2 separate regions of the Homo sapiens genome follow, and region 1 is linked to region 2. A link means that fine-mapping ties the variant in region 2 to the expression of a gene that starts in the linked region. Tissue or cell type: whole blood. Region 2 holds a variant in brackets; the other region holds the start of a gene. All regions are shown on one strand. Distances are between the middles of the regions.

Region 1 (5,000 bases), 47 kb before region 2:
CAAAGTATAGTGATTAAGAGCATAGACTCTAGAACTAGACAGGCCAGGTTTGAATCCCTGCTCTGCCATTTACTAGCACTGTGACCTTGGGGAAGTCTGTGCCTCAGTTTTCCCATCTGCTAAAAGAGGATAATCCCAGTATCTACCTCATAGAGTTGTTACAAGGATTAAATGAGTTACAATTTATAAACAGAATGCTGGCTGGAAATATTAGCTGGGCATGGCGGCGTGCTCCTGTAACCCCAGTTACTTGGGAGGCTGATAGTTTAAAAACTATCTAAAATTTTGATAAATCCCATTTTTCCAGGTGAGAAAACTGAGGCACAGAAGAGTTAGGTAATTGGCTGGGCATGATGGCTCATGCCTGTAATCCCAGCACTTTGGGAGTCTGAGTCGGGTAGATCACCTGAGGTCAGAAGTTCAAGACCAGCCTGGCCAACATGATGAAAACCCATCTCTACAAAAATACAAAAAATAGCCAGGCATGCTGGCGCATTCCTGTAGTCCTAGCTACTCGAGAGGCTGAGGTGGGAGAATCATTTGAATCCGGGAAGTGGGGGTTGCAGTGAGCCAAGATCACACCACTGCACTCCAGTCTGGGCAATAAAGCAAGACTTGGTCTAAAAAAAAAAAAAAAGTTAAGTAATTTGCCTAAGATACCGCAACTGAATGGTGGAGCTGGGACTCAAACCCCAGGAAGTTTGGCTGTGGAGGCTGTGCTTTCAATGAAGTGGGCATGTCCACATTAATTACTTTATAAGGGGAGTGGGCGGGAGAAACCCTGAATTAAGTGATGTGGAAGCTTCTAGCACTTAAGATGTGAGTTAGTCTTCCTTCTGTGGTAAGTGAAGTTTGCAGCAGCTGGTGGCTGGACTGTCCCCAGGTGGCCAGCAGCTTCTGGAAGGGGGCTCTGAGGCCTGAACAGGGGCTAAAAGGCTGGGGTTTGATTTGGTTTCTTCAGCGTCCTGTCTCAGAGCTCATTTATCTTCCTCTCAGCACTGCTCCCAGGAAGTCCAGTGTGACTTGATCCTTGGTACTTGGTAAATGTCAATCTAATATAGAAAACCTTTGCTAAATCTCAAGGAAAGACAGTCTCACTGTCTGTCGCCCAGGCTGGAGTGCAGTGGCGGGATGACAAGGGCTTGAGCCCCTCGAACTCCTGGGCTCAAGCAATCCTCCTGCCTCTGCTTCCCAAGTAGCTGGGATTACAGGCATTCACCACCACAGCCAGGTAATTTCTTAATTTTTTGTAAAGACAGGGTCTCACTCTGATCCCCAGGCTGGTCTCAAACTTTTGGACTGAATCAGTTCTCCCACCTCGGCCTCCCAAACTGCTAGGATTACTGGCATGAGCCACTAAATCTGGGCTAATCTCTGGGAGTTTAAACCCAAGGTAAACAATTCAATGCAACAAACCTTTGCCTGGGGCTTCTTATGTCAGGTCTTCTACTGGGCCCTGGAGATACTGGTGTGCATTGAGAGGCCACCTGGACCTCAGGATGCTCCCAGTTCAAAGGGGGAAATGCAGAAGTCTACAGGCAGATTGTGGGCAGTGGACCCCAAATTAAATAGGAATCAGCCACGTGGGAGGGGCAGGAAGTGTTCCTGCCCTGGGTAATGGCTCAGGCAAAGGCAAAGAGGCCGTTTCTTTTGGCCAGGGCTGGGTGGTGGTCTGGAAGATCAGATAAATGTGATTGTGGAGTAAGGAATTTACCCTGAGGGAGAGGAGGATGGTTTTAAATTCTGGAAAGAGCTCACGCCTGCAATCCCAGCACTTTGGGAGGACAAAGCGGCAGGATCTCTTGAGCCCAGGAGTTTCTAGACCAGTCTAGGCAACAGCAACATAGCAAGACACCCCCTTCTCTTAAAAAAAAAAAAAAAAGCGCAGTGGCTCACTCCTGTAATTCCAGCACTTTGGGAGGCCGAGGCGGGCGGATCACGAGGTCAGGAGACCTATACCATCCTGGCCAACATGGTGAAACCTCGTCTCTACTAAAATACTAAAAAAAAAAAAAAAAAAAAAAAAAAATTGCCGGGCGTGGTGGTGTGCGCCTGTAGTTCCAGCTACTTGGGAGGCTGAGGCGGGGGAGTCGCTTGAACCCGGGAGGTGGAGGTTGCAGTGAGTCAAGATCGCGCCACTGCACTCCAGCCTGGCGACAAAGCGAGACACCGTCTCAAAAAAAAAAAAAAAAAAAATCAGCCGGGTGTAGTGGCGAGTGCCTGGTCTTAGCTACCCGTGAGTTGAGGTAGGAGGATCGCTTGAGCCTAGGAGGTGGAGGTTGCAGTGAGCTATGATCGCGAAACTGCACTCCAGCCTGGGCGACAGAGCAAGACCCTGCCTCTAAGAAAAATGAACAACAAAAAATAAAGTCTATTAAGGAGGGTCTCTTGGAGGCAGGAGAGGAAGCAGGGAGAGGCACAGGTAGGGTGAGGAGCCGCTTTAGGGTGCGGCTCTAGGGACCCAGTAGTGGCTTGGACTAGCGTGGGGGATTCCGCCCTGGCGCTTTCCCTGGCTGGCTCTCCCATGCTCGCGCCTCGCTCCCCTTCCTCGGTCTTCGCTATGTGGGATACTCCTGGGCCGCCCCGGACTGACACGTGAGCCAGGCCTCGGTCACATCCCGGCCCGCTCCACAACTCCGAAGTAGCGGCCGCCGCCCCTGTCCTGCAGCCGGCCCTGGAGGGTCTGGGCAGGTGCCGCCCCGCAGGCCCCGCCCCGCCCCGCCCCCTGGCTCCGCCCCTCACTCAGGCCCCTCCCCCGGCGCCCGCGCGCCAGGACTGGGCGGCGCCGACGCGCTTGGCGGGAGATAGAAAAGTGCTTCAACCCGCGCCGGCGGCGACTGCAGTTCCTGCGAGCGAGGAGCGCGGGACCTGCTGACACGCTGACGCCTTCGAGCGCGGCCCGGGGCCCGGAGCGGCCGGAGCAGCCCGGGTCCTGACCCCGGCCCGGCTCCCGCTCCGGGCTCTGCCGGCGGGCGGGCGAGCGCGGCGCGGTCCGGGCCGGGGGGATGTCTCGGCGGACGCGCTGGTGAGACGAGCCGGGAGGGCTTGGGCCCCTCCCCCTCCCTTTAACTCACCCCTCCCCCACCCAGATACCCCCGACCCTCCCCAGGCTCCCACCAAGCTGGGGTGTGTGTGTGTGTTGGGGGTGGGGTGTTTCCGCGGAAATGCTGCGTCCTGGGCCCTCTGAGGCAGGGGCGCGCGTAAAGCTGGGGGGCTCTTGGGCGTCCCTCGCGGCTCCCCAGGCCTGTTGGGCCTCGGAGCTGGGACGGGCGGGTCTCTTGGGACCCGGGCCAAGCCGTGCATGATGTCATTTTGTCTCCCGCCTAATTGCGGGATGGGGGTGGGCCGGCCGGTGTCAGCTGGCAGGGCCTTCGCCGGCGAGGGAGGCGACCCCTGGGAGCGAGAGGGAGTCTTCAAGTCCCAGCCAGTGGGAGACCGAGCCTGGGAGGCACTTGTTGCAGCCTAGTTTTGGGTCAACTTGGTGGGTGGGCTTTGCTCCTTAACATTCCGGGGAGCACAGAGTCCCCCAAGCCCTCTCCCCTGGACTGAGAAGGGTGCTGAGTTGGGGGCTCTTTTGTCTCTCCCACCTGGGTTCCGCGCCCCAGCTTGGTTCGGTTTGAGACCTCTCTTCCTGTTCCCACGAGGAGTTTTGGGCAGCTGGGGTTGAAGGTGCGGGGGAGAGAGAGAGTCCCTGGGGCAAAGGCAGGAACTGCGGTCTCCATTTTACTTATTTCCCCAGAGACTTAAGTGGCAGAGCTGAGCCCGGAGCCAGGTCTGTGGCTCCAGATCCCTGTCTTACACCTGTGCGCCTGGGGCCTGAGCTCCAAGCTTTTCAGCCTGCCTGGGAGACAGGACAGTGGGGTCCTGACCTCTTCCCTGCCTGGATCGCTGCAGCTCAGATAACCTTCGTTCCCTCTTTTTTTTTTTTTTTTTTTTTTTTGAGAAGGAGTCTCGCTCTGATGCCCAGGCTGGAGTGCAGTGGCGCGATCTTGGCTCACTGCAACCTCCGCCTCCCAGGTTCAAGCGATTCTCCTGCCTCAGCTTCCCGAGTAGCTGGGACTTCAGGCACGTGTCACCACGTCGGGCTAATTTTTTGTATGTTTAGTAGAGACAGGGTTTCACCATGTTAGCCAGGATGGTCTCGATCTCCTGACCTTGTGTTCCGCCCGACTCGGCCTCCCAAAGTGCTGGGATTACAGGCGTGAGCCACCTTGCCCGGCCAAACTTCGGTCCCTCTTTAGACGATAGCCTCATCTAAAGATGAAGCCTTCCATCCCTCTAGATTTTTGCCCTTTCAGGCTGAGGATAGGGATCTGAGCACAGGGACTGTGTTCCTCAGGCCCCACTTTCCCAGGCCAATGTCCAGGAAGAGTTTTCTGTTCAGGCGCCTATCAGACCCTGCCCTGGTTTTTTTTTTTTTTTTTTTTGAGGCAGGGTCTCCGTCTGCAGTCCAGGCCGGAGTGCTGTGGTGCTGTCATAGCTCACTGTAGCCCCAACCTCCCAGGTTCAAGTGATCTTCCCAACTCAGCCCGCTGGGACTGCAGGCTGAGTAGCTGGGACTATGGGCACGGGCCGCCACAACTGGCTAATTTATTTAATTATTTAGGAGACAGAGCCACTCTGTGTTGCCCAGGCTGGAGTGCAGTGGCACAATCTCGGCTCACTGCAGCCTCTGCCTCCCGGGTTCAAGGAATTCTGTCTCAGCCTCCCAAGTACCTGGGACTATGGGCACACGCCGCCACGCCTGGCTAATTTTTTGGATTTTTAGTAGAGATGGGTTTCACTGTGTTGCTCAGGCAATCCGCCTGCCTTGGCCTCACAGAGTGCTAGGATTACAGGCGTGAGCCACCGCGTCTGGCGTGTTTTATTTTGTGTAGAGATGGAAGGGGGCGGGAGTGGCCTCGCGTTGTGTCTCACCTCACTATGTTACCCAGGCTGGTCTCGAACTCCTGGCTTCCAGGGATTCTCCCCCACTTGGCCTCCCAAAGTGTCGGGATTAC
Region 2 (5,259 bases):
GAAAGGGAAATGGGTTTGAGAGCCCCCATTAGTGTGGAACAAAGGGTTGAGTGAGCCTGGGCTTTGAGCTGTCGGGGTCCTAATTCAGCAGCTGTGTGACTGTGTGCCAGGCTGTTGATCTCTGAGCTTCTGTTTCTACCTGCTTAAAATGACGGTTACTGCACAGGGCTGTGTGAGGGTTACAGTGCGTCTCTGGGCTGCTCCCAGCCATGGCAGGCCCCTGGGAATCAAGGTCATCAGCTGCTTGTCCAAGGCAGCAGTTAGTGGTTGTGAATGGTGCGTGTGAGATCTGCATCCTGGCGTCAGGCCTCCTTCCTGCCTTACCCAGGACAGCCCAGTTGCAGCTGGGTTGGTCCCACAGTCCCACACACACACAGCCCGAGTGTGGTGCCTCACGTGGGCTGCCCCGTGCCTACCCACAGCCACAGACCCCGCACCTGGAGGAGGACTTGAAGGAGGTGCTGCGTTCTGAGGCTGGCATCGAACTCATCATCGAGGACGACATCAGGCCCGAGAAGCAGAAGAGGAAGCCTGGGGTGAGTAGGGTAGGGGTGGGAGAGCCTGGGCAGGGGGAATTGGAGCCGTGGCATGGGGGAGGCGTCTGGGGACAGGTTGTAGAAAGTGAGGCGCTGGGGAGAATGGGGGCGTAGCATATCCCCTTTGCCCCCTTTCGCACGGTGGTTGTTGAGGAAACTGACAAGATAAGGACAGTGTCTCTGGGACCCTCCTCTGCTCTGCTTTGAAGGATTCACTTACTTATCCAGCATTGTGTTCGGACCCTGCTCAAGTTGGGCTGGGCTGGATGTGGTGGATGGAGCAGCAATTACGACCCAGACTGGATCTCCCCTTAGTGTTCAGGGGGCAGAGACAGATGCTAGACAGACACACCATGACTGAATTCACAGGGTACCAAGGGCCGCAGAAAGGGAGGTTCCAAAGGAATCTTTTGGGTGGAGGCGAGGCGGTCGGGATGAGCCAGCCAGGCCAGGCAGTGCCTGGCTGAGTGTCAAGCTGCATGAGCTGGGGGTGGGGGAGTGGGTTCAGGTGAGGTGGAGTCTGCAGGGGCTCCTGGGCAGGGGGGCAGGGAAGGGACTGTCCCAAGCCTCCGTTCTATGCCAGCCTCCCTCCCACTGCGTCGTTAGCTTTCATGACAGTGCGCGATCCCTTCGAGTCTCCTAGTGCTCCTTTTTCCCAGACTGCTCTCCTCAAGGGAGAGCTGGGAACGGTGGGATGTACAGGGTGTTAGGTAAGGAGGGGAGGTGGGCGGTCAGCCTGGGCGGGACTTGCCCGAGCTGGCACCCCATGTGCACGTGGAGAGAACTTGGCCTCTGGCCTCCAGGGTCCTCCCTGGCCTCTCCTTGGTGGGGATGGTTGTGAGCCATGGCAGCCCCTGCTGAGTGCACTGTTGGGTAGAGTGGGGATGTGACTCTCAGAGCCGCTCCCTGGTATCGGAGCAGGCCCTGGACCTGCTTCTGTGAGGTGCACGGTTAGGAATGGGGCGTTCCTTGATTGTATTAGGCATTGTAGAGGGGCTTGTCCTGAGGGGTTTGTGTTCCCATATTACTGGCCTGTGGGTGCTATTTTAGGTGTTACTGGGGTGATTCTCTGCTGGGCCTGTTTGAGGGGCTGTGTCTGGTCCATTCGGGGTGAGAACAGGTCACTTCGTGGTGGAGGTTCATGCTGTGTTCCTGCTCACTGTCGCAGCACCTGGCAGGATAGGGTCTACCTTGGGTACAGAGTCTAATGGGGCCATGGGGCCTAACTTTCCCAGCCACCCCATTCTTCTGACAGCAGATTCCCACTAGCTGGGCCTTGCTCCAAGTCTGCACTGCAGCAGGGCCTGGTTTTGTGACCATCCATGGCCATGACCATCCAGGTGCTGACCATGGGGAATCCAGACACTCACCCTAACCCCCTTCTATCTGCCAACCCCTAGCTGCGGCGGAGCCCCATCAAGAAAGTCCGGAAGTCTCTGGCTCTTGACATTGTGGATGAGGATGTGAAGCTGATGATGTCCACACTGCCCAAGTCTCTATCCTTGGTAAGGCTTCTGCTCCTTGGAACTGTTGAGTTTTGGAGAGGACCCTCAAGGTGGAGTTAGTGTAGTGACTCTCCAACTGGGCTTCTGGAACCCTGGGCTCTGCAGGGAGGGGCTATCAGGGAGGGTGGGTCCGGGCACCCACTCATGGCTTCAGTCAGCAGCTCTGCTTGTCTCTCACAGAAGGTTTTGTTTGGCAGAGTTGCGCGGCTAGGACATGTTTTAAAAACATGCATCTGGGTCTCCTGCGCTCTCCCAGAGAGGGTCAGTGATGTGTCTTTTTTTTTCTTTTTTTTTTTTTGAATTGGA[A/G]TTTCGCTCTTGTTGCCCAGGCTGGAGTGCAATGGTGCCATCTCGGCTCACTGCAACCTCCGTCTCCCGAGTTCAAGTTGTTCTCCTGCCTCAGCCTCCCAAGTAGCTGGGATTACAGGCATGCATCACCACGCCCGGCTAATTTTGTATCTTTAGTAGAGACGGGGTTTCTCCATGTTGGTCAGGCTGGTCTCGAACTCCCCACCTCAGGTGATCTGCCTGCCTCGGCCTCCCAGAGTGCTGGGATTACAGGCGTGAGTCACCGTGCCCAGCCTAGTAATGTGTCTTAAGGTATAGCCAGGCACTTGGGCACATTAGTCCTGGGATGGGTGCTATACAGCCCCCAGGCCAGTGGACTTGCTGTGCCGGGTGCTACAGTGAGGTCGACCTCAGAAAGGGGGTTGTTGCCTGTGCAGAGCCTGGGTCCCCAGAAGCCAGGGTGTGCTGCTGATCCCTCTCTGCTCACAATGGGGTGAGTTGGCTTGCCCTGGCTCAGAGTGGGGAGGCGGTGAGAGGCATGGCGGCGTCATGAACAAAGGTTAAGGGTTGCCTGATCTTCCAAGTAGACTGCTGCCCTCACGGTCCTTGCAGAGAAACCTTGTCCTGGCTAGGGGTCTCTGACAGGCTGGGGACCTGCAGCCAGGTTACTGCAAAGAAAAAAACATCACCGCAGGGAGTGAAGAGCACAGATTGAGTCAGGTGGGCCTGGGTTTGAGTTATGACACCATCACTGCTCTCTGGGATCTTTCAGGTTCCCTGAGCCCCAGTTAAAAGCCTATAAAAGGGGTGCCAAGCCTAAGTCAGGAGGGCACAGTGCCAAGCAGAGCAGAGAGACTGGAAGGGCGTGGGAGGGGCTTTGTGCAACTCCGCTGTGCTTGGGGTTGAAGCTGCGTCTTTATGATGCTTGTGGATGTTTCTGGTCCCAGGAAAACTAGGAACAGCCTTGGCTCCTCCTGAGGCTTTATGTGACAAAGCCAACGTTATTGAGTATGTTATTACTGGATAATGCTCAGTGATACTCCACATTTATTGATTATGTTATTATGGCCTGGGGGCTGCACGGCACCCATCCCAGGGCTGATGTGCCCCCACGTACTTGACTGTGCCTCCAGACACACCACTGAATCAGGCTCTGAAACGCACACACGTTTCTTTACTTGATTACTTGATTTTTTTTTTTTAAGTAAGAAAGTTCTTTAGAACAAGATTAAGTTCTTTGCTTAATTTTTTTTTGAGACGGAGTCTGGCTCTGTCTCCCAGGCTGGAATGCAGTGGTGCAATCTCGGCTCACTGCAAGCTCCACCTCCTCCCAGGTTCGCACCATTCTTCTGCCTCAGCCTCCCAAGTAGCTGGGACAACAGGCGCCCACCACCACACCCAGCTAATTTTTGTGTTTTTAGTAGAGACGGGGTTTCACCCTGTTGACCAGGATGGTCTCGATCTCTTGACCTCGTGATCCGCCTGCCTCGGCCTCCCAAAGTGCTGGGATTACAGGCGTGAGCCACCGCTCCTGGCCCTTTGCTTAATCTTTTAAGTATAAAGTAAGCTTAAGCTCATGTAAACTCCCTATCTGAAAGCAGAAACTGAGGCTTGGAAAAGTGTGTATCCTCTTTCAGGTCTCAGCAGCCAGGTGGTGGTGCTGGGGTGGGATTGCGGGTTTTTTTCTTCCCTCTCACAGCTTCTCGCAAAATGGTGACTCCTTGACTTGGTTTTGGTTTCAGCCGACAACTGCCCCTTCAAACTCTTCCAGCCTCACCCTGTCAGGTATCAAAGAAGACAACAGCTTGCTCAACCAGGGCTTCTTGCAGGCCAAGCCCGAGAAGGCAGCAGTGGCCCAGAAGCCCCGAAGCCACTTCACGACACCTGCCCCTGTGAGTGCTGTGGCCATCTCTGGGGGTCCTGCAGTGCCCGCCTTCTTAGCTCAGGGCTGAGTGCTGGCCATCCCTGGGGGTCCTGCAGTGCCCGCCTTCTTAGCTCAGGGCCTTTGCATAGGCTGTTCCTCTGCCTGGGTGCTTTTCCTGCTACTTCCCGTGGCTGCATTTGCTTAACTTACTCTTCTGATTTCAGTCTCAATGCTGCTTCCTTAGGGGTAAGCCTTCTCTGACCCTACATTCTGTAGAGATACCCCCATTCTGCCATTCTCTCTTTTGTGGCCTGGGTTTCACTTGTAACTAAGTCATTATCCCTGTATTTGGTTTGCTTAGTACATGTCTGTCCTCAAGCAGGGGCTGGCTTCAGGCTGCTGACCCGTCTCACTGCTCCTTCTCACCCGCCTCCTGGCTGTGGCTTCTCCTCGAGGCTGGTGCTGCACGGGGCGGGCAGTGCATGGCCATGTCTCCTTGTCCAGCGTCCTACTTACAGTTGAGGAAGCCCACAGCCAGGAAGTGACTTGTCCAGGGTCACAGGGAATGTGGAGAGAGAATAAGAAGGCTCTGGCTTCTAGGGGAGGGAGGCTTATAACTCTACCCTTCCCTGGCCAGGATCACCAGGGTCTGTTGGGAACACATAGTCCCTGCCTGGATGGTAACCCTCTTGCCTCCTCCCAGATGTCCAGTGCCTGGAAGACGGTGGCCTGCGGGGGGACCAGGGACCAGCTTTTCATGCAGGAGAAAGCCCGGCAGCTCCTGGGCCGCCTGAAGCCCAGCCACACATCTCGGACCCTCATCTTGTCCTGAGGTGTTGAGGGTGTCACGAGCCCATTCTCATGTTTACAGGGGTTGTGGGGGCAGAGGGGGTCTGTGAATCTGAGAGTCATTCAGGTGACCTCCTGCAGGGAGCCTTCTGCCACCAGCCCCTCCCCAGACTCTCAGGTGGAGGCAACAGGGCCATGTGCTGCCCTGTTGCCGAGCCCAGCTGTGGGCGGCTCCTGGTGCTAACAACAAAGTTCCACTTCCAGGTCTGCCTGGTTCCCT

What was found. PIP is the estimated chance that this variant, and not a neighbour inherited with it, causes the effect. A credible set is the group of variants that fine-mapping cannot tell apart.
Region 1: it holds the start of MYBL2, and the variant in region 2 is the best candidate, but not a certain one, in a credible set for the expression of MYBL2 in whole blood (TOPMed, PIP 0.85).

The regions. Positions count from the first base shown.
Region 1 is chr20:43,664,279-43,669,278 of GRCh38, forward strand. It overlaps MYBL2 (MYB proto-oncogene like 2), which reads left to right and starts at 2,836. Exons shown (of 14, transcript NM_002466.4): 1 at 2,836-3,025. The coding sequence starts at 3,006. RefSeq lists silencers at 2,631-2,925, 2,662-3,041 and enhancers at 2,631-2,925, 3,692-3,741.
Region 2 is chr20:43,711,066-43,716,324 of GRCh38, forward strand. It overlaps MYBL2 (MYB proto-oncogene like 2), which reads left to right. Exons shown (of 14, transcript NM_002466.4): 11 at 423-536; 12 at 1,937-2,041; 13 at 4,069-4,218; 14 at 4,894-5,259. The coding sequence ends at 5,022. Among named protein-coding and RNA genes, the nearest start is that of GTSF1L, 13 kb to the right of the region's middle. RefSeq lists an enhancer at 17-86. The variant A/G (reference allele first, on the strand shown) is at 2,348.